Linked DNA regions of Homo sapiens. The protein of the gene in region 3 interacts with the protein of the main gene of each other region in a biochemical or structural test. Each region holds a gene or a part of one and is shown on either strand. Other genes may lie near its edges.

What was found. Proteins that work in one complex are often made in the same cells at the same time.
Region 1: the proteins of YBX3 (region 3) and TJP1 form a complex in vitro, tested with the Homo sapiens proteins (one study listed by BioGRID).
Region 2: the proteins of YBX3 (region 3) and SYMPK form a complex in vitro, tested with the Homo sapiens proteins (one study listed by BioGRID).

The regions. Positions count from the first base shown.
Region 1 is NC_000015.10:29,714,459-29,721,481, forward strand, and holds part of TJP1 (tight junction protein 1), read right to left. Parts: intron 6,251-7,023; coding exon 5,900-6,250; intron 5,559-5,899; coding exon 5,319-5,558; intron 4,681-5,318; coding exon 3,808-4,680; intron 3,661-3,807; coding exon 3,563-3,660; intron 2,381-3,562; coding exon 2,153-2,380; intron 1-2,152. UniProt on the Homo sapiens protein: TJP1, TJP2, and TJP3 are closely related scaffolding proteins that link tight junction (TJ) transmembrane proteins such as claudins, junctional adhesion molecules, and occludin to the actin cytoskeleton.
Region 2 is NC_000019.10:45,825,138-45,832,160, forward strand, and holds part of SYMPK (symplekin), read right to left. Parts: intron 6,452-7,023; coding exon 6,247-6,451; intron 5,068-6,246; coding exon 4,917-5,067; intron 4,069-4,916; coding exon 3,833-4,068; intron 2,782-3,832; coding exon 2,700-2,781; intron 2,487-2,699; coding exon 2,373-2,486; intron 1,237-2,372; coding exon 1,089-1,236; intron 195-1,088; coding exon 34-194; intron 1-33. UniProt on the Homo sapiens protein: Scaffold protein that functions as a component of a multimolecular complex involved in histone mRNA 3'-end processing. Specific component of the tight junction (TJ) plaque, but might not be an exclusively junctional component. May have a house-keeping rule.
Region 3 is NC_000012.12:10,720,324-10,728,291, reverse strand, and holds the start of YBX3 (Y-box-binding protein 3), read left to right. Parts: upstream 1-5,180; coding exon 5,181-5,442; intron 5,443-7,968. Other genes in the region: uncharacterized protein LOC124902876, read right to left, coding at 3,186-3,255, 4,632-5,182. UniProt on the Homo sapiens protein: Binds to the GM-CSF promoter. Seems to act as a repressor. Also binds to full-length mRNA and to short RNA sequences containing the consensus site 5'-UCCAUCA-3'. May have a role in translation repression.

The sequences.
Region 1 (7,023 bases), on a different chromosome or scaffold from region 3:
CGATCTCCTGACCTCATGATCCACCCACCTCGGCCTCCCAAAGTGCTGGGAGTACAGGCGTGAGCCACTGCGCCCAGCCTTTTTTTTTTTTTTTTTTTTTGAGACAGAGTCTCACTCTGTTGCCCAAGCTGGAGTCCAGTGGCACGATCTCGGCTCACTGCAAGCTCTGTCTCCCGGGTTCACGCCATTCTCCTGCCTCAGTCTCCCGAGTAGCTGGGACTATAGGAGCCCGCCACCACGCCCCGCTGATTTTTTTGTATTTTTAGTAGAGATGGGGTTTCATCGTGTTAGCCAGGATGGTCTCGATCTCCTGACCTCATGATCAGCCTGCCTTGGTCTCCCAAAGTGCTGGGATTACAGGCACGAGCCACTGCGCCTGGCCATATAATCTTTTTAAGGTTGTATTCTATTTACCAAATATGTAAAACGATAAATAAGAGATATCTTTAAACTAAACACCTGAGCCTTCTTCTGACAGGAATGAATGTGTTTAACGGTGTTTAGTAAAAATAATAACTAAAGGGTACACCCTTCTGCCTTACCAAAGGTGAGCTCCTATGGCTCAGTGCCTAGCTCACTTTAGGCTAGTCACCATTTAGATGTTACTGTGATAACTGTGTAAATGAATTCCTGTAACACTGTAAATGTAAATGAATTCCTAATGACAAATCCACATCTGTTTTTGTTCTTGTGGGTTTTGTTCTGTTGAGGTATGAACCCAGCTGTGCACCTGTGTGGGTTTATATTGTGCTAGCTCACTTCAGTCCAGACACCATCTAGATGCCACAACCCCTTTCTAGTGTTGTGCTAAGGGGTGGTTCACAACACTAGTACAAGACACGTTTTGCATTTAATACAACCCCCACTGCAGCACTCTCAGTTTGCATTTGGATTCTCATAAACTGCTTTCTTCTGTAAACATAAAGCCTTAAATATAGGACAGTGAAAAAAGTCTTCACTACAAAGGATGTCTTAGAAAAAAGCAGTGGTAATTAAAATTAGGTTTTAATGTTAGTGGTTTTAAAGTATGTTCTAAAACAATTTACACTCAATAGTAAATGACAAATAGGTCATTTCCCAAGATAATCCCAAGCCCACGCAACTAAGTAAGGAAAAATCTAGGTGCTTTTAATATAGACACAATACTATGTGTGATGAATTCTAATATGTCAATCTGGCTAGGTACTGCCATGAAGGGATTTTTCAGGTGTAATGTCCCCAAGTCAGTTGAGGGGAGATGGTCTTGGGAGGGCCTGGCCTAATCAGCAGAGCCCTCTGAATGAGAATTTAGGCCTTCCCTGATCTCACACTCCCCAGTAGCTCAAAATCTTCCCTTCCTGACCAACTGCCCTCTGAAATAGGACTTGCTTAGCCAGCCCCTGTAACTGTGTAAATGAATTTCTTTTGACAAATCCACATCTGTTTTTGTTCTTGTGGGTTTTGTTCTATTGAGGTATGAATCTACCTGTGTGCCCGTGTGGGCTTAGACACAACTATCAGTACCAAATTCTCTTATCAGTCAGGGTTCAACCAGAGACACAGAACCAGTAGGAGACACAAACCCACGCAGGCACAAGAAAGGAGAACAAACCAACACGAAACCCAGGGATGAGTAAACGGAGGGGAGCAGCAAGCACAGGGAAAAGATGACTGGGAGTCAAGAAACTTGGGGTTCAGTCCCAGCTCTGCCCTGTCATTTTCCCTCACCTGTAAAACTGGATCAGAAATCTTACAAAAACAAAAAACAAAAAACCTCTTCAGTATTTCCCTCAAACAGGATCCTCCTCACATCTGTATTTATATTTAAAAAATAAAAACAGAAAAGAAAAAGAACCAGCATGACATCATTAGGTGTGTGTACAGAAGTGAAGACTGATGATTACCTATCGATGAGGGTCCTTGTGGTTGACACTGTCTTCCGTCAAAACCCTGTGATGTTAGCATCTTTGTGAATGCAAAAACTATGTACATCTAATAGCAGACTTTAAAAACAAAACACACATCCCAGAACTAAAAAGTATGTACAATGCTGAACCACTAGAGCCTACAGAAATCATATATTACACTTAAATTATTTTTCTTCAAAATATATTGAACTGCACGGGATTAATATGCTGCATCCTATTTTTAAAAGCCAGGTGAAATAGCTTACTTTGAAGAATAACTAGAAAAATTTGATTGATTCTGAGAATGCGCTGGCTTTGCAGGCTCGGAGAGATGGCTGGCGGCAATGTGTGCAGGAGGCTTATTCTCAAAACTTCTTCGGTCAAAGTATGACAGCTGTTTTCGATAATATTCTTCATCTTCTTCAGGGTCATAATGATTGGACCGAACAATATCTTCAGGTGGCTTCAGTTGAGGTTTTTGAGGTTCTGGGATCCTAACAGATAATGAATGACAAACGGAACACCTTTTTAAATATTAATGTTATGAAGGAAGTAGAATATGTAAGTCTTATCTTGACTAAAAGGTCAATAATTACTAACTGCTGTGATTACTGAGGATCTGAGCAGTCCCAACAGTTAAAATGGATATTTCAAATCCCATGTCCTCACAGAGTATACTCAAAAGGCAGCCCCCTTCTGGCTCATGAGTCCTTTAACACAATATAATAAGCTAAACGATTACATGATTAGGGAACAGCAGGTTAGAAGTAGTTAATCAGAAAGACAAAGGGCAATGTAACCGAGACAGTGAACATCTTGAGAAGTACATATACCAAGGTCAAGAACAGTAAATGATAGACTTTAAGAACTTTCAAAGGGATTTTTAAGAACTCAGTCCAGGATCTCAATGATTCTCATATGAACAAATAACTCTATATGGTCTAAAGTTCTAGAAGGCATACAAAGCAGATGAGGAAGAAAGCAAGTCATTAAGTAAATTCATATTAGACAGTTCTCTTCTTTATCCTAAGTGCAAACATATATTCAGTCAAAAAACAAAATCAGAAGAGCTGTATTCAAATCTAATCTGTCACTTATTGGCAGTGCAATGAGGCCATGGGAAAAAGCTCAGGCTGAGGAGCAGCAGGCCAGGTTTCTCTTCCAGCTCTAAGTCTTGTAAGCTACTTGCCCCTCTCAGCCTCAGTGTCTCTCTCTACAATGCAGAACAACAACAGTGTCACCTCATTATGCTGATGTGCTTAGCACAAGGGCAAGCACCTTATGCATGCTCACTAAATGATTTAGTTATCTTAACCAATCTGAGTCTGTTTCCTCACCACTGGAAACTAAGAGTTCACATGTCGAAAAGCACTTTTAAAACTAAAAAACATAATACAAATGTCAGAGCTTAAAAATGTTTATTTAATCATCTGCTTGGAGAATATCTTTCCGAAAGTCTGCTAAAGGTATAAAGATTTGTCAGATTTGTCAGAAATAAAGTTCTACTTTTTTTCCCCCTAGAATCACTGTTTAGGAGAGCTGATAGTTTTTATTTAAGGACAAACTCCTCCTATTCACACCTCTCCTCTACTAACACAGTAAAAGGTTTTCTTATTGACTAAGAGGGTTAAATTCCTGGTCAGTTCTATGCCACAAAGAGCACAAAGTGTACTCACCTGTACAGAGTTTTGTCATGTTCACTGAATTGATTCTGAGAAGTGGGTTTGGGACCAATGATGGGAGCACCTGAAGGTTTAGATGCTACTTCTGGAGGCTGTTTAAAAAAAAAAAAAAAAAAAAGACAAATATGCCTAAGGAACAGATAATTAACAGAATAGATATCATGTAATGGCGGAGGGGAGAGCCAAGAAGCCTTTTAAACGGTGTGCCCATGCATCCAAGGCACTAAAGACATATTTACCTTAAAACTGCCAGTGTCATTTACATCCTTCTTGGTCTCTAAGGATGCAGATCTTTTGTTTTCAAACATCTTAACTCTGGTGAGTACAGACTGTGGCTTCATTGCTGGATCTTCCTCTTCTTCGGTTTGAGTTGGGGGTGGAGGCAGTGGTTTGGTGTTTGAAGGCAGAGCTTCTGGCTTATGCTGAGATGAAGGTATCAGCGGAGGGACAGCTGCAGCACCATGGAGAGGCTCAAAATGACCTGCTCTAGAGGTAAATCCTTGGGGTGGTACTTGCTCGTAACTGCGTGAATATTGCTCAAAATACTGCTTGGACTCTGCAGGCTTGGGCCCTGCTGAAGGGTGGGGCTGGGCTTCCGGTCTGAGTCTACCATGTGTGTCATACCCAGGAGCTGGCTGCTCTTCGTGCCGCAGGGCGGATGCTCTAGGTGCCTGTTCGTAACGTGGTCTGCTGTCGTAAGACAGAGGGGCTGGCTCTTCAAAACGTGGAAAGTACCCTCGTTCTGAGGACTCTTCGGGATGCTGTCTGGAGTCAAGGTCTTGAGAGTGCTGATTATCAAAAGGTGGCCGAGATGGGTAGGGCTGTTTGTCATCATAATATGACCACTGTTCTTCATACATGGGGACGCGATCTTCGTATCGCAGACGATGTTCATAGTTTCGAGAAAACTGGTCCGTATAGCTTGAGGACTCGTATCTGTATGTGGGCTGCTCGAGGTCTCTGCTGGCTTGTTTCTCTACGTATGGGAGTTGGGGTTCATAGGTCAGATTAGGCTCTTTGTCTGGCCTGTGCCCTGGGTGACTAACGGCTGGCTGTTTCAAAACATGGTTCTGCCTCATCATTTCCTCGGGATATGGATCCTTTCTATACACCTGTATAAAAAATTCACATTTAAGGACAAAGTCTTGTTTCTAATTCTAGTCTATTTTATTAGACTGTGATTAAATATTAAACTACGATTTAATATGTGAAAATGGTATGTTTTACCATTTATTATCAGGATAGACAAGATTAGTGGAAAAAGCTGGTTTAAGTGAAAGCTCAAAATTTATAATGCAGGTAGGGGCTTTTATGTTTCAGCATGTACTAAATAAACAGTGAGTTAAAGATAAATATTAAATTTAGTAGAAAATTAATGCACTATTGATTACACTTCATTTTGACACTGAAAAATCCTAAAGAAGATTTATGGGCATCATAATTTGTATTAACATAAATATGTTTATGATGGGTTTCGATTACATATTAAGGAATTCTGGAAGATACTGAAAGCCAAAAATAAAAATAATAAGCACAAATCTCAATTAAAAGGCCTGTTTTCAAATAATCAGTATACCAATGGAAGCCATGCAAACTACGAAACTGAAATGATTTGTATTGATTTGAAAGCATTACAGTGTATAAGCCTGCAGTAAAAAAGCAAAAGGAACACTTAAAGGGCAAAGCAAAAATGATCATGTGCCAGATTGATGGACAGCAACAAATTAGTGCAACACCGCAGCACAGGTACCTTTGTTGGATCTACATGCGACGACAATGATGGTTCTTGATCTCTTAGCATTATGTGAGCTGCCTCAGTACTTGGTGTTCTTAAAGAATCAGCTTGTGGTGAGTAAGAGGTGGAAGGAGCTGGGGTGGGCTCCTCCAGTCTGACATTAGTTAAATTTACATTATGATTAACAGCAGAGGTTGATGATGCTGGGTTTGTTTCAGGCGAAAGGTAAGGGACTGGAGATGAAGCTTCTGCTTTCTGTGAAGTGTTTAAAATATTTTAAATATAGTGTTTCTGTTTACTGCTAACTTTCCACTTCAATTTATAGTGATTGGTAGACATACATTTTAAGTGTGCTGAATAACAAAATTATGACCTCATGTCCTAAACTTTTTGGGAAAAAAAAAAAATCCAGTACATTGCTGTGTTAAGACAAACACACAAAATTTAGAATTAAGCCCTTGGTACTCTCAAATTGAAATTGAAGATTAATTCTTAATCTGGAGAAAGGACAACATATATATTTTTAACTCAATCACCACATTCTAAAATTTAATAATGCACCTCTATCTACAAAACGTTGAATGCTTGCTGCTTACCTGTTGAGAGGCTGGCTTAAATCCAGGGGAGTCTATTCTATGAATTGGTTGTGGCTGCGCTTGTGGTGAGTAAGGAGGATATGTTTGGTTTTCATGATGCATTCCAGAGGAGTCCTCTCTTACAGGCTCAGAGGACCGTGTAATGGCAGACTCCGGTGGAGTCCCAACCTCATCATTAAGAGTTTCATCTAGTTCTTGATCAGTGTAGGCCCCGCCTTCTGTGTCTGTGTCTTCATAGTCAGAAGTGTGTCTACTGTCCGTGCTATACATTGAGTATTCACTACCTGGAGCTGACAGGTAGGACAGACGATCATCATGCAAATCAAGGTCATCACTTGTAGCACCATCCGCCTGGGTCAAATAAAAGTAAATTACAAATTTTATTCAGTAGTTCTTTAAGAGATGGCCTTTATCGTACAAGGCAGATTGAAAAGGATATCTTTCTCTGGAGAAGTCACATCTACTTCTTGAAACTTCTGGTAAGGAAAAGTCAAGAAGATTGTACAAGCACACACGCAGACACATGGAGCACCCCTTGAGATCTGAAGGGCATGGATGAAGGAAACAGTGGCCGGTAAGCCAGGACAAAGTTAGACTCCAGGGCCCAGCCCTGGAAGACAACGAAGAAACTCTGACACTGCTCAGATTTATAAAACCTACTCACTAGCTCTTCAGCCCTTTTAAGCAAGGGGAAGAGGGAGAATGTTACCAAACTAAGCTCACAGAAACAAGGACACACTGACAGAATAGCACATGGAAGAATACCTATGAAATAAACCCAACAGTTCAAAAGTTGAATAAGAGCTAATATATTTATGTTTAGGAAACAACTGATATGGTTTGGATTTGTGTTCCCACCCAAATCTCATGTTGAATTGTAATCCCCAGTGTTGGGGGAGGGGCCTGGTGGGAGGTGACTGGATCATGGGGGTGGTTTCTAATGGTTTAGCACCATCTCCCTCACACAGTCTTGTGATAGAATTCTCCCAAGATCTGTTTTTTTAAGTGTGCAGCACCTCCCCAACTCTCTTCCTCCTGCTCCAGCCATATAAGACATGCTTCCTTCCCCTTCCGCCACGATTGTAAGTTGCCTGAGGCCTCCCCAGAAGCAGAAGCCTGTACAG
Region 2 (7,023 bases), on a different chromosome or scaffold from region 3:
GTGGGCAGGGCCTGGTGGGCTCAGGGGCCTCACCGGCTGCTCAATGACCCTCAGCACCGTCCGCTTGATGTCGGCGATGGCTTCAGTGTACACGGCCGCCAGTTCGTGGATCAGCTTGTGGTTCTGAGGCAGGAGGGCCAGGTAGAGGTACAGACACTGCTTCACTGTCTCCTCCGTCCAGGGTGCTGCCACCTCTGACAGGGCAGGAGCGGGCATCAGATTGGCCCACACTCTTCTCCAACCCCCTCGGACCCTCAGGAATGTCCCTTCTTGGGCAGTGGAGCCGGGGAGGGCAGAGAAGGGAGCCGGGGCTGGGGAGCTAATTGTTCTAGGGCAGGGAAATGGCGGGGACCAGGACTTCCCACCTCCAGCCTCCCGTGACTGCCAACACACAAGGCAACTAGAAGGATCTTTCTAAAGTGCGATCCTGACCCTGTCCCTCTCTGGCTCCAATCCCAGCCATGCCTGCCCTGTGGCCTCAGAATAAACCCCCAGCTCCCTGCCTCACACTGTCTGCCAGGTGTTGTATGGGGTGGCCCCGGCCCGCTGCTGCTCTGCTGCCCTCCATGTTGGTCACATACCCATTCTAACAGTCCCGAGGGCCCTGGTCTCTTTGCCTTTGCATCCACCCTCCTCTTTGCCTGGTCCACGGCACCTGCTCAGCTTCTGGGCCTCCCGAAGGCTGTGCATCTCCTGGGAATGCTTCCTGGCACCTGGGCCAGGCCTCCCGTGCTGCCCTATCATGGCCCAAGCCTTCCCATTTAATGGTCCATTTACTCGGGGTCTGAGTCTACCTGTCTGTAATCCAGGGCTCTGCTGAGGGAACCTGCCTGAGATGGCCCTGCCTGGTCCTTCCTCAGGCCCCACCGATGGCTGGCTCTCCTCGTCCTCCAGATCTCTCTCCCTGACCCCCCAGGCTGGGCCAGATGCCCCCTACCCTGACTCCCACAGCCCCCAGGTGGCTGTCCCAGTCCTGCCCATTCCCGTCACTCGTGTCCGAGTGGCTTCCCCACTCATCCCCTCTGCTCGCAGGGCCCAGAGCGCGGACACAGCAGCGCTCAGTATGCATCTGATGACCTGTGCCCAACCTGTGTCCTTGTCAGCTCCAAACAGCACAGACGGTGGGTTGGGGTGCACCAGGAGCTGCAGGTAGTTGAGGGCAAATTTCTCCACATACTCCCGCAGCTGCTCCTTCTCATACATGCGTTTGATGAACAGCAGGGCCTGGGAGCGCACCTGAGGAGGAAGATGGAGAAGGGCAGGGTCAGGGAAGAGGTAAGAGGAAGAACAGCTATTCCTGCGAGCATGGCAACACTCACGTGAAAACAAGCCCGAGGCTGAGAAGGGGCAGCCCAGCTGTTACCAGGGCCCAGGGCTGGTCCCCAGTGCAGGAGGCAGATATCCTGGCCAGGGCCGGACCCGCAGCACCACCTCACTGCCTGCCTCTCCAGCCCATCTGCCCATCACTGCTTCTTGCCTTGCTCACTAAGCTCCAAGCAGAGGGAGAGCTCCTCAGTTCCTTAAAAGTGCCACTCCCTGCCAAGTCTCCCTAGAACGTCTACTGCCAGCTAAACCCTGTTTCACTCAGATATCATCTGCCAGGAGCCGTGAGGGAAGGGTCTGGTCCTGGGCACTCTGACCCCAGCAGCAGCACATGGCCATGGCCAGGGCCAGGGCCAGGGGTGTGAGATGAAGGTCTGCTGAATGAATGAAAACGCTACCCAGCAAGGGCTGGGGCAAAAGGCTGCAGGCAACGATGGGTCAAGGGCGCTCTCAACCACAGCACGTGCACATCTGTCCCCTCTGTCTAGAGCACACCCAGCTACTGATTTTCCAGGTCTCAGCGTACAAGTCCCCTCCTTGAAAGAAGCCTTCCTTGAAACACCTCCCCTGCCCACCCCACAACCAGATGGTCGGCCCCTCCCTCCCCAGGGCAGCCACACACTGCTCTGCTCAGCTGCTGAGCACGCTGTGTCCTCACTGCTGGCTGAGGCCACACCGGCTCCCCTGCTGGGCTGGGCAATGCCCTCAGGCCCCGGCACAGGACTGGGCTGCACGAGGAGCCTGTGCTGGCCACCACGGGTGGACTAAGAGCGAGAGTGGGACTGCCCTTCCCAGGAGGGCAAGCGCACGTGTGTGTGTGTACACACTACAGGCAGACTCAGGCACGGTAACCCTGGTTTCTAGGCAGCTTGATGCCACTGAAAATGAAAATAAAACAGACAGAAATAGCCAAAAAACCACTGAAAGAAGGGAATGGGCCCAGAGAAACTTGCAAGGGAGTGTGGAAGACGTGGGCTGGTTACTCAGGATAGAGGCGGCCTCTGCAAGCTGCAGGCTGAGGGCAGCCAGGAAGTGGAGGAGGGGATCACCTTGTCCTTCTCATGGGAGCTGAGGTCGAGGAGGACATGCAGGTACTGGAACTGGCGGGACGGGCGCTTGAAGATCAGGTCTCGAAGTGTGGACATGCCCAGATAGGTGCGACTCTGCAGCAAAAGGAAAGGGACCCGAGCTCAGCCCACCTGAGTGTGCCTCTGGGCTCTGTCTTTCCTGCCTGCCTCTGATCAGGTACCTGGACAAAAGGGCCCGGTCCCTCACAAAACCCCCGGCCACAAGGTTTAGACTGTGTGCCCTTCAGACCCCTCAGGGCAGGGCCCTGTCCCCTGCCCCGGGCTGCACTGACCAGGGCCTGTCCTCACCTCATCCTCGCAGTACTTGCGGACCACCTCCAGGGCACTCTCTGTGATGAGTGGCGCCTCCAGCACAACCTTGGTGAAGATCCTGCCAGAGATGGAGGGAGGGCCATGGCTGCAGAGGAAGAGGCCGCCTGGCTCCCGGGCCCTGCTGAATTGTAGGAGCTCAGGGCCAGCAGGCCCTCCCTCAGGGGCTGCTTGTTCAAGCCCCTGCTTATAAAGCTTTGGAGGTGAACAGAACAGGGTTCAAAAGCTGGCGGCTGGATGATCTGGGCAGAGACTGCACCTCTCTGAAACTCATTTCTTCCGTTTGTCAAACAGGGATTCCTAACTTTATTCACTGAACATAAGAACGGGAGGGAATGATGGCGGGTGGAGAAGGGTGTGGGTATTTTAGATATGGTGGCCTCAAAAGGCCGCTTTGAAGTTACAGTTGAGTACACTGGTGGATGAGAAGGAGCCACCCACACATAGAGTTGAGGGAAGAGCATTCCAGGTGGACAGAACAGGAAGCACCAGCGCCCTGAATTTGACATGTTCGAGGAACAGACAGAAGGCCAATGTGGCTAATGTTCGGGGGGTAAAGCCAAAGAGATTGGGTCACATAAGGCCTCACTGGTCACAGTAAGGAGGCTGTGTTTTATCCCAAGACCAATGGAGAACCATGGAAGGTTCCTTGTGGGGAAGTAATAAAAGGATTTATATAATAAAATGTTCCTGGAGCTGCTGTGTGGAGGATAGACGAGTAAGCTGGAGGCCACGGATAGGGAGGAAGCTACAGAACCAACTCAGGTAGTGAATGGGGTGTAGAGAAGTCTATCTCCAGGCCCATGGGTGAGCACTGTTATTTACAGATGGGAAAATGGCAGAGAGAGGGAGTGACAAAGCCACGCAGAGCAAGCTCAGAGCAAGTGGCAGAGCTGAGGAACAGCTCAGGGAGTGCGACCTGGAGCCCACATGCAAAACTACAACCTTGAACGTGCCTCCAGAGGGGGAGGAGGAGAGGAGACTTGGGATGGGTGCGAGGAGGACTGACTCGGGGGGTGACGAAGAGGGAGGTGGTCGCAATCAGAAAGGGAGGGCAGCACCAGGAGAGGAAGCCTCTCGGGGACAGGAGGGTGCAGGGTCAGCCCCCTCACCCATCCTTCTGGTCTGGTTTCTCCTGCAGGCCAGACAACAGGCGGATGAGGCAGTCCTCATACTTGTCCAGGGAGCCCGAGGCACCTGCGGCCAGGTAGGCGTTGTACTCCTGGTAGAGCCAGGCGAAGGCCAGGTCCAGGCGGGCCCGCACATCCTCCAGGATGAAGGACAGGACCTCCGCCTTCAGGCCCGAGTTGAACTGTGTCACCAGGCTGGCCAGGATCTTTATGCGGACCTGGTGGGAGGGTGAGCCAGCATGTCAGTGTAGGGTGGGCAATCCAGGGACTCCGCAATCGTGCCCTGCGACTTCTCCCACCCAGACGCAGGAACTCTCAGAGCAGACAAGGAGTGAAGCGAGGAAGGCCAGCCGAGGACCCTTATGCCTAGGAAGGTCCCGTTTGTGTGTTGGGGGGTGGGGGTACCAGGGTGGGGATCGATCATCACAGAATAAAAATGAGTTTCTAGGAGCAGCACCCATGTACTTAAGTGCACAGAAAAAGATCCTCAAAGATTCCCCTCATTTGTGCCTTTGTCACCTTTGAAGAGAGGGATGGGGTGCAGGTGATGGCCACGGAAGAGTACTGGATCTGGATTCCCCGGAAATATTTTTCAGCTCAGGGAGTATGTTCCTATACTACTGGCTAATCAACAATTAACTTCACAGAATGGGGAAAAAGTCACTTTTCCCCATTCTTTGAAGGTAACAGTGCCAGCAAGTGGCAGAATCAGGACAGAGAACCAGGTATATTTCTAAAGCTAAATAGTAACAGTAAGAACGTTAACAACCGTGAAGAACCAAGACCACAAGAGCAGCCCTCACTTGCAGAGGCCTCCCAGCACCTGCCCTGTGCACCTGAGTGCCTGTGCTCATTGCACATTTCCTCCTCGTCACCCAGGAGGAGCTGCTGCTACTGTCTCTGTTTTATGGAGGATGGGAGTGATCTGGAGAAGCGGCTGTGGGCAGCAGAGCTGGGGTCCGCAGCCAGGGAGGTTTGACGCCAGGGCCAGACTCTTCGCTGGATGTGAGGTAGACGTTTGGGTAGAGGGACTGGAAGGATGGGGTGGGGGGTGGCAGGCGCACACCTGGGCTGCCCCGCTGCAGGCCACAGCCTTCTCAGCCCGCAGGATCCGCTTCACAGCGCCCAGCTTCATGGCTTCCACCTGGGCATCGGTAAGGGGCTTCAGCACGTCGCTGAGACGGAAAATTTTCTTGCGCCCACCAGCGCCTGCCAGCCTGTGTGGAAGAGCAGTGACAGAGATGCAGTGACCCAGACTGCAGCAAAGGCCTGTCTGGTGACTCTCCCAACTTCAAGGACTAGGTAGGCAACAGAGATGGCCCCCATCCCCCTGCTGCCTCTCCAGTTCCTCTGTGTCTCTGAGGCACGGTGTGGCGGTGGGTAAGAGGAAGGAAGAGGATGTTATTTTGGTTTTGCAGAGGGCGTCTTACGGAAGGCTTCTGTGAGTGGGGATCTGAACGGAGGCAGGGACAAGATACACAAATGTCTGGGGGACCAGCTCTCCAGGCAAAGGCCCTTAGGTGGGAACAGACTTGTGGGCACGAGTGGAGGAGGGGTGAGGGTAGCAGAAGAGAGCTCGGAGGGTAGCAGATCCCGCTCAGCTGTGTTAGTAAGACTTGGGGCTGGGCACGGTGGCTCACGCCTGTAATCCCAACACTTTGGGAGGCTGAGGCAGGCGGATCACGAGGTCAGGAGATCGAGACCATCCTGGTTAACACGGTGAAACCCCGTCTCTACTAAAAATACAAAAAATTAGCCAGGCGTGGTGGCGGGCGCCTGTAGTCCCAGCTAATCGGGAGGCTGAGGCAGGAGAATGGCATGAACTCGGGAGGCGGAGCTTGCAGTGAGCTGAGATCGCGCCACTGCACTCCAGCCTGGGAGACAGAGTGAGACTCCGACTCAAAAAAAAATAATAAATAAATAAATAATAAAAAGACTTGGGTGGCCGGGACTGGCTGGATTTTGTGGTGTGTAAGGGAGGTAATAATGGGGACAATGATGATGACAGCCAGTAGCATTTACTACACAACAGGAACCACGCGAAATGCTTGACAATCACAATCACTTTTCACTCGAGTATCTAGTTACCTAACCATCACCATTACCACGAACTAATTTAATTCTTCTTTGATCCTTATGAGAAAGATACTATCATTATCCTAATTTTAGACATAAAAAAGGATTTTTTTTTTTTTTTTTTACAGGAAAGAGAACAGCAAAGGCTTAGTGGTTATGGCACTGACTCGGGAGTCAGAGAGAACCTATTCCAGACTTCCTTCTGTCTGCATCTCAGTTACACACACACACGCACACGCACACGCACACGCACACGAGCTGAGAACCAGACCTTCAGGGTAGGGCTCCTGTCCTGCCCTAGCACCCAGAAGAGGACTCACCGGGGCTGAGTGACAGGGATAATGGGCTCTGGCCTCCTCTTGGCCTGCGGTGCCTCTTCCTCCAGGGGGGACATGGAGCTCAGGGAACCCACCACCGAGATGGCTTGGCCCTGGGCTGACAGGCGCCGCTTGATCAGGACGCTCTCTGTCTTCACCACCTTCTCCTCCTTGGGCTCCTCCTTGCACTGTTTGGTCTGCTCTACACCTGAGGGGGAGGCAGCAAACAGACACCCAGTGCGTCAGACCCACCTGCTCCAACCCGAGGACCTCCTGTGTGCCTGGCTCTGTTCTGAGCCCTGTACACACAAAACCTCGTTTAAATCCACACAACACTGTCCTGGAGTGGGTACTCTTTTTATCCCCACTTTTCAATACAACTGAGGCTCAAACTAGAAATGCCATTCATTGCTGGGGGGAGCAGCAAATGCTACAGCCACTTTGGAAACATGATGAGCAGTTTTTGTTTTTTAGACTGGGTGTCACTCTGTCACCCAGGCTGGAGTACGGTGGTGCAATCAGGGCTCACTGCAGTCTTGACCTCCTGGGCTCAAGCAATCCTCCTGCCTCAGCCTCTCAGCCTCCCAACTAGCTGGGACTACAGGCGCATGCCAACATACCTAGCTAATTTTTGTATTTTTTTGTAGAGATGAGGTCTCCATATGTTGCCCAGCTTAGTCTTGAACTCCTGGGCTCAAGCGATCCTCCCGCCTTGGACTTCCAAAGTGCTGGGATTACAGGTATGAGCCACTGTGCCCAGCCCTCAGCTGTTTTTTTTGG
Region 3 (7,968 bases):
AGCTGTTTGGTTTCCTCTCCAGAGGTCCTAATTGGAAAGATCTGAACATTACCTTCAGTGGCCAGAGAGCCTTGCTTTATTTCTTTTCTTAAGACAGGATCTCACTCTGTCACCCAGGCTAGAGCACAGTGGCATGATCATGGTTCACTGCAGCCTCGACCTCCCGGGCTCAAGTGATCCTCCCACCTCAGCCTCCTGAGTAGCCCTGAGTAGCTGGGACTACAGGCATGCACCACCATGTCCAGCACAGCTAATTTTTGCTGGTTTTTGTTTTGTTTGTTTGTTGTAGAGACGGGGTTTTGCTATGCTGTCCAGGCTGGTCCTGAACTCCTGGGCTCAAGTGACCCACCCGCCTCGGCCTCCCAAAGTGCTGCCTTGCTTTATTTTTGAGGGGACTCAATGCTACAGCATTGACATTTTGTCAATCAGAATTTTATGGTGGCAAGGGCGCTGAATTGGGTATAAGGAGACTCAGGTTTTGGTTCTAGCTTTGCCACTAAATACATAAATTAGTTCGAGAAAGTCAGTTAATCTCTGAACTGCAATTCCTTGTTTTTAAAATGAGTGGGGTTGAGATGGATACATTTCTTTCTAGTTCTTACTTATCAGATAATCTTGTCAAGTTCTTCCACCAAAACTGTACCAATCTCCTAGTCTTTAAACACTAAGAACACATCTAAATAGTTAAGAAAATAAGTAGAAGCAAAACAAATGCAACAAAGTCACTTAGAAGCTGGAACTTTTATATAAAATCAATATATGCTGAAATAATCAGGTTTTTCAAAACTTCTCAGTAATCGCTTGTTTTTTTTTTTCCTCCTGCTTAATAATTTCAGGTCTAGAGGTGCAACATTTTCTGAACTCTAAATCCAGCTTCCCATAGGGGAGAGTAAAGTCACAGCCAATTCCCCACCATATTCTCAGTTCTCTTAATGAAAAGGAAGAAATCCTATAATACATCTTCATTATGGTAGGCCAATATATGTGAAAGTTAAAGAAGAAGCATAGTCCATAAAGGCAGTGGTGACAGGGAATGGATATTGTAAATTCACTTTGTTTACATGCCCTAGAGATCATCAGTGACATCATTATAGAGTTATTCAGAATTATGGCATTATGGTTCATGTAAATTCTTTGGATATTATATGTCACAAAGGAAGCTCAAACCAGCCCAACAGGTAGCATTATCTTGCTGGGTAGCCACAGACTGATGTATGGTCCAGCTTTCAGGCCCAGGACTTTTTCCCAATGGAATCCTGAAGAATTATTCAGGTTAAACTTCTAATTGTCTAGAAGGCTTGTGCTACTCAATATGGTAGTCATCAGCCACACCGAACTCTTTAAATGTGAGTTCAAATTGAGATGTCTTAGAAGTGTAAGATACACACTTTGAAGATAGTACCAAAAAAAAAAAAAAAGAGGAATGTAGAATACATCATTCATGGTTTTACCCTTGATTAAATGTGGAAATAATATATATTTTATATTGATTAAGTTAGGTAAAATCTATTAAAATTAATTTCATCTGTTTTTTACTGTTTTATTGTGGCTGCTTGAAAATTTAAAATTAAATATTTGGTTCACATTTGGGGCTCAAATTATATTTCCAATGGGACAGTATGGGTCTATACCATTAATTCATTCAATACAGGGGCATTCCTGCCTGTTTTGCATGATGTTCTTAGCACCAAATTGCAATGATTAATAAATGTGCTGAATGCATTACTACTGAGTGCCAAACAGAGCGTGATAACCAAGGTCCACTCTCCCCCTGAACATTGCTGGAGACATCCTGAAATACCTTTACTCTCTTATTCTTGCACTTTTTTGTTCCAAACTGACCATTTCCCTCATGTTCTTTTTTGTATCAATTAAGTTGAGATTAATACTTCACTGTTTTCCAGTTTCAAATATGCTAATACACAAAGCTTCCTTATTTTAAGCTCCAGTCCCTTGAATAACTTGAATTCTCCTCAATCTCCTTAGTCAATTAATTGCATTTTCTTCCTTAGGGTGATATGCTGGATAGCCTCCTGTCAATTTAGCATCAACTTTAGCTTCTTCAAATGCAGAGACTACATTTCCCAGAATCTCCCTCCCGGCCTGTATATTTCCAAGTTGGAATCTAACAATGAGAGCCTTTCGCTCAAAGTTTAGAAGGAAGAAGAGAAGACCATTATATACCAGAGTCAGTTATAGAAAGATGCATCGGCATCAAAGCTGCTTCCAGATGAACTTCTTGAGGACTTACTGCATCGGTGTTGCTGACTGAGATAGCAGGTGCAGGAGTAAAGCTAATGAAGTTTAAATTTCAGGGCTCCTGTCTTGCACGGACCCTTTCGAAGACTCTGGGAGCAGTCCTAGCATTTTAGTATTCATAACTTTATTTTATCTCAAAAAGGGCTCTCTAAATTGTATTAGTTTTAAGCATCACAAAACCTGAATCCAGCCCTGAATTGCTGAGAACTTCCGAAAGATCTTGTGGCTCCAGTGGCTTCAGGAGAACTCCTGAGAACCACTGTCTTGGGGACTGGAGGCTGAGATCTTCAGTGGAGCTTCTCTGAGTTTCCCTCCTTCAGCCCTTCCAACAGTTGTGAGAGCTTTAACTTCCTCCATACTAGGAACAGAGTGGCATTTGTTTTTATGATCAAACCAATAATTGCTTAAAAATGACTGCTGTCAGCAATTAGATTATAATTCTTTGTTGACTTACTCTTAAACTTAGTAAATGATGATATTGTCTTACAATAGAAATGTTGATAGTGAAAAATAATTTTAACATCATATCAAAAGACCTTACAACCGGCTCCATTTTGGTCAACATTGGATACTCACAATGGTGTACTTTGTCCGGGACATAGCATTTGCTTAGCAAATATGAGTGTATGAATTAGTGAATGAAGGAATGGATAAATTTATGTGTATCTGTATCCAAGTTGCTTCCTACTTATGATTATTAAAACATAGATCATATTTGTTCTAATTTTCTTTAGATTTATTTAGTACAATACCAACAACTTCCAGCTGCTCACTGCTTTGTTTGGATGACAATGATGAGTAGTTTTGGAAGCCAGTCCAGCACAAATTCTAGGAAATCCCAGGGTGCATCTGTAATTATTTTAGGGTCTTCCAGAGGTTGGAGATCACACCTGTTAGTTATGAATTACTTCCAAGGATGAATTTTTTTAAAAGGCTTTACTGTTGGATCGGTTTGAAGAGTTCAATCTCCTTACTTTTTTTTCTTGTAATGTAATTCTGAAAGGTAAATAGCAATGATAATCATTTTGCTGAATAAGAAAGTCAATGGTCAGTCCTCACCAGAATAAATCATGTTTATAATTTAATTGTAATTAAGACCATAATCTTTCACATGAAGAAATAATTTAATCATTCTTAGAATTAGACCAGCATTTTAAAAGCATCTACATTTATATAACATCACTGTATGCTCCATACTGAAGTCAAACTAAAATATGAATCTAACATTTAAGAGTTTGTAATTTTTTAAATATTGATGAATTACATAGAAAAGCTCAAAATTACATAATTTGCTATTTTTTCAAATAACTTATTTTCTTTGTGTTTTTTGTGGATGAAATAAGAAAGTAAGAATTCAGGAAAGTTTCATAATAATTGATAGCAAATGTGCAGATAAGTAATTGAGTTTGGAAGAATTTGGTCTGTTTTCATTTTGTAAACATTCACTATGTCCAAACTCTGTGCTACGTACTGTACTAACCAGTGGAGATACAAAGATGAATTACACTTGATAGTTACCCTACTGATGTTAAGGTAGACATCGACATTACAGACATATTCCTGGAAAAAAATTTGGTAAATTGTTTGAGGGAACAGGCAATAACTTAAAAAACAAACAAAACAAAGGAGCTTTAGGTGGACCGGACACTGGAGTGACACATGATAATCTCATCTACTTTTCATGTCACCTTTGAGAACCTCTCATAAAGCAGGAAACCGACTCTGGGACATTGAATCTCTGTCCCAAGTTAACCTGGTTAATAAAAAACAAAGCCAGAATTTATACCTAGTCTGTCTGAACCCTAGGGGCCAAATAGTCCTGTATTCCAGACAGTCTTTGGGTACAGATCCCAGACCCTCTGGCCCTGTGTTTACTACCATCCAGCCCATTCTCAAAGGGCATGTGGGCTCTTCAACTTGGGAATAATGTTTATTGGGTGATCTGTTTCTCTATACCTCTCATCCTCGAGGCTAAGAGGGCTCAGTTCCTTAAGCTTTCACCAGCTGGCAGAGGCAACTGGAGCAGAAGGTAGGAAGTGGATTTATTCAGCTTTTTTTGTGTGTGTTCCTTATTAAATATATATTGACAGCTCCTTATTTGTTGCGGTTAAATTGGTGTAAACTCTGAATTTACATTAAATCTGTGAGGTCAATTTCCTCATCTGCGTGTTACAGATGAAATTATCCGTATATTACCTTTCAGGAGTAAGTTGCCAAATAGTCTTAAGGTTTTATTATTCCAGGTCTTAACAGCTGTGCTACGAATAGCTGCTGGTGCTTGATACATGTTGAATGACTGACTAGATGCAAAGGATTTAAAAACAAGTGTTTGAGAGGGTAAAGCGCAGAGTAGTTTGGGTGCCCTATTTTACCTCTCCTTGTCAGCTGCGGGTGTCAAGACGGGTTGAGGGAGGAGAGCCAATGCACCCCGCTCCAACAAAGGGTCAGCAGCGCGGGCTCCTCGGAACGCTCCAGAAGACAACCCGGGCGCCCCGTTCACCCTGGCTTTCCTTGGTTCTGCAACGCGACCCGCGCGCTCGCGTCCCGGCGGATTGGAGCCATAGAAAGCGCACCGGGCGCCTTTAAATGCTAATGAGAGTCCAGGGCCCGACTCCCGAGCCAAGTTTCCCCACCCTCTCCCCTCGCCCGCCCTTCCCTCCCGGGCCGGTGCGCCGCCTAGAAAAACTTGTGCGGGGCCATTTTTGGGGCAGTAAGATCGAGCGAGGAGCCCAAGAGAGAGCGCGCAGCACGAAGCTCGAGCCGCCTCCGCCGCGCGACCCCACCTCGGCCGCCGCCGCCTGCGCCGCGAGATCCGCCCCGGCCTCCCCGAGAGCGAGCCCCGGCCGCCGCGACCACCAGCCGCGCTAACCGCCGACCAACCGCCACCGAGGCGCCTGAGCGAGAGCAGAGGAGGAGGAGGCATGAGTGAGGCGGGCGAGGCCACCACCACCACCACCACCACCCTCCCGCAGGCTCCGACGGAGGCGGCCGCCGCGGCTCCCCAGGACCCCGCGCCCAAGAGCCCGGTGGGCAGCGGTGCGCCCCAGGCCGCGGCCCCGGCGCCCGCCGCCCACGTCGCAGGAAACCCCGGTGGGGACGCGGCCCCCGCAGCCACGGGCACCGCGGCCGCCGCCTCTTTAGCCACCGCCGCCGGCAGCGAAGACGCGGAGAAAAAAGTTCTCGGTGAGTCAGGCCAGGGAGGGCAGGGGCTGCCGTAGTGGGGCGGGCCCAGCCGGCCGCGGAGCACGTGTGGGCAGCTCGCGCTACATCTCCCACCCGGGCTGGAGACGCTGACAGCACAGGGTCCCCAGGGATCTCCGGGTCCCCAGGGGTCTCCGGGTCCCCAGCGCTGGCCGCCTCCCTTGCCGGCGCTCCCAGGTGAGCGCGCTGCGCCCTGCGCTCCTGGCGGCCGTGTGCATCTCCCTTCTGGTTCCGGGCCAGAAAGTTTAGGTCTTAACTTCTGTCTCCCAGACGGGCACTGTTGCGGATTCGCGTGGTGGAAAATGCCTGCGTTTGGAGAAGAAAGGAGAGGCAGTCTGGGAGAGGGGACCTTGGGTAGGGATGGATGTAGGGGAAGGACCGACACGTGGGCCTGGCGCTTTGGGGTCCTTGCTTGGGATCTGGGAAAGGAGAGCATTTCCTTTGGGGAAGAGGAGGGCGCTAGAAGGAGACGGGGAGGGAAAGATAGAAAAGCTTCTTGCCAGGAAGGGTCAGGTGTCTGTCCCTGACGCCCTTCCCACATGGGCATGGGAAAGACGCCATGCTCCTGTTGGCCACATGCCAGCAAAGAGATGTTGCAATCGTCTCCGGGAAACTTGGGTCTTAGTCCCACGTCTTCCTCCCCCTCTCTGTGCCCACGGCTGCAAACAGCCATTCAGTGTCCACCAATGGCTACACGCTTCCCTCTTCCCGGACTGTGGGAACGCACGTGGTGTAGCAGCTGAAAAAACTTTGTCGGAAGTGGGGGTATGACGTTAGTTCAAAACATTGTTACCTTGGCACTTGTAACGTAGGAAGGGAAACAGGAAGATGAAATGTTGAGATTTGGGGGGGCAGTGGATGGAAAGGGTTTCTGTGATGGTTGTTGGTTTAGTCACATAACAAGCGTTCTTTTCGTAAGTAACGCCCCTGTGTGAGTTCTTAAACGCTTGCAAAGCAGGTGGGTGGTGAATAACCTCCCTAAAGGGTGTGTGTCCATATCGTTCGCTCTTATAAACAGGAACGTTAACAGATGGTGTAGGATGCTTCGGAGACCTCTTCACTATTTGGGGTGGGGCATGTTTGTCTCATCTCTCTGAGCCCTACTTCCCCTTTGGGAAGAAAGTTGAGGGAGCAATGTGAGAGAAGTGTATTCAATATTCCCCACCTTGAGAGGACTATTTTCTTGTTTTTTTTTTCTAGGGCTTTTACTAAGTCCCTACCAAACAACATGCTAATTGTAACCTGTGTAGGTTAAGAAACAAAATAGGCCTGATTTTGCTGGACTAAAAGTTGCTTAAATCTAGTCAGTAGTACATTGTGATGTTGTTTCTAGCAAATATTTCTTGGAACACTTTCTGCCAGATGTCTGAGAGAGAAAACCTTGTGTTCTCCAAAGCAGTGTTAGGATAACATTGTTAATGATACCTTATTTTGTAGAAAGCTTTTGCGGTTTTTCACTTAATCCTGTACTGTTCTGAGATTGGGAAAGCAGATACTATCTTTAAAGATGAAGGAAACAGATAAATGAAGGTTAATTTCCTCAAGCAACTGCCTCTGCAGATCCCTGGTGATGAGTCTGATGCCTTTTATCTTTCCACTCTTACTGCGTCTCTCTAAAAATGAAGGACAGCCCTTTCTACGTGACACCTCAACACTGTTTGTCTCTGTCTAGTGTGTCCTGCCATCCCCTTTCCTTTGCCAAGCAAACACATAGATGCCTAAGATGTACTAGGCACAATGCTGACTAAAATGGATATGTTCTAGTATTTGCAAATGGGCCTTCACTTGAGTTTATAAGCACATAGGCCAGGAAAAATAGTTTTCATGAGTGCAAAAAAATTTTCCTTCTGATAAATGTTATGGAAATCTATGGTCTTCCTCCCCAACCCTTCCCCTTAGTGTATATGAAGTGGGTTTATGGTTTAAAGCAAGACGTGGGAATGAATTTGATCATAAGAAGTCCTTGGAGAAGTATTTGCGGAATTACGAAACTTTTTTAAACTACATTGGAGAGTAAAAATAACCTTCAGCTTGGATTGAGGTTAGACCTGAGAATTATTTATCATCTTTTTCCTTTATTATTAGTATTGTCATTTTAATCAAGATTATTCCTTCAACAATGCTAGATATTAAAAACAGTTCCAGTCTTTATATTTTCCCAGGTAATTAATTTTTTGGGCAAATGAAAAGAGGCACTAAACGCATATTATTTGGAATATTGCCTGACTTAAATGCATATAATGTATCAAAAACAGGCCTCTACTGTGTACATTTGCATCGAAAACATCAACTGTTTTTTTCTCCTTTGCCTTGCTGCTCCAATCAGAGTGGCCTCAAACGTAAGATGGCCTGGGTTTGATCTCTCCTTTGGAGAGATGAGAGATCTTTGGAATTAAAGCTGGAGAATGCCTCATCAGTGTAGACTGCATAACTTTGGAGATATAAAGACATGTTTTTTTTGTTTTGGATTTTCTTTCCCCCAACAAAGAGAGCTAAAGTATTTTCCCA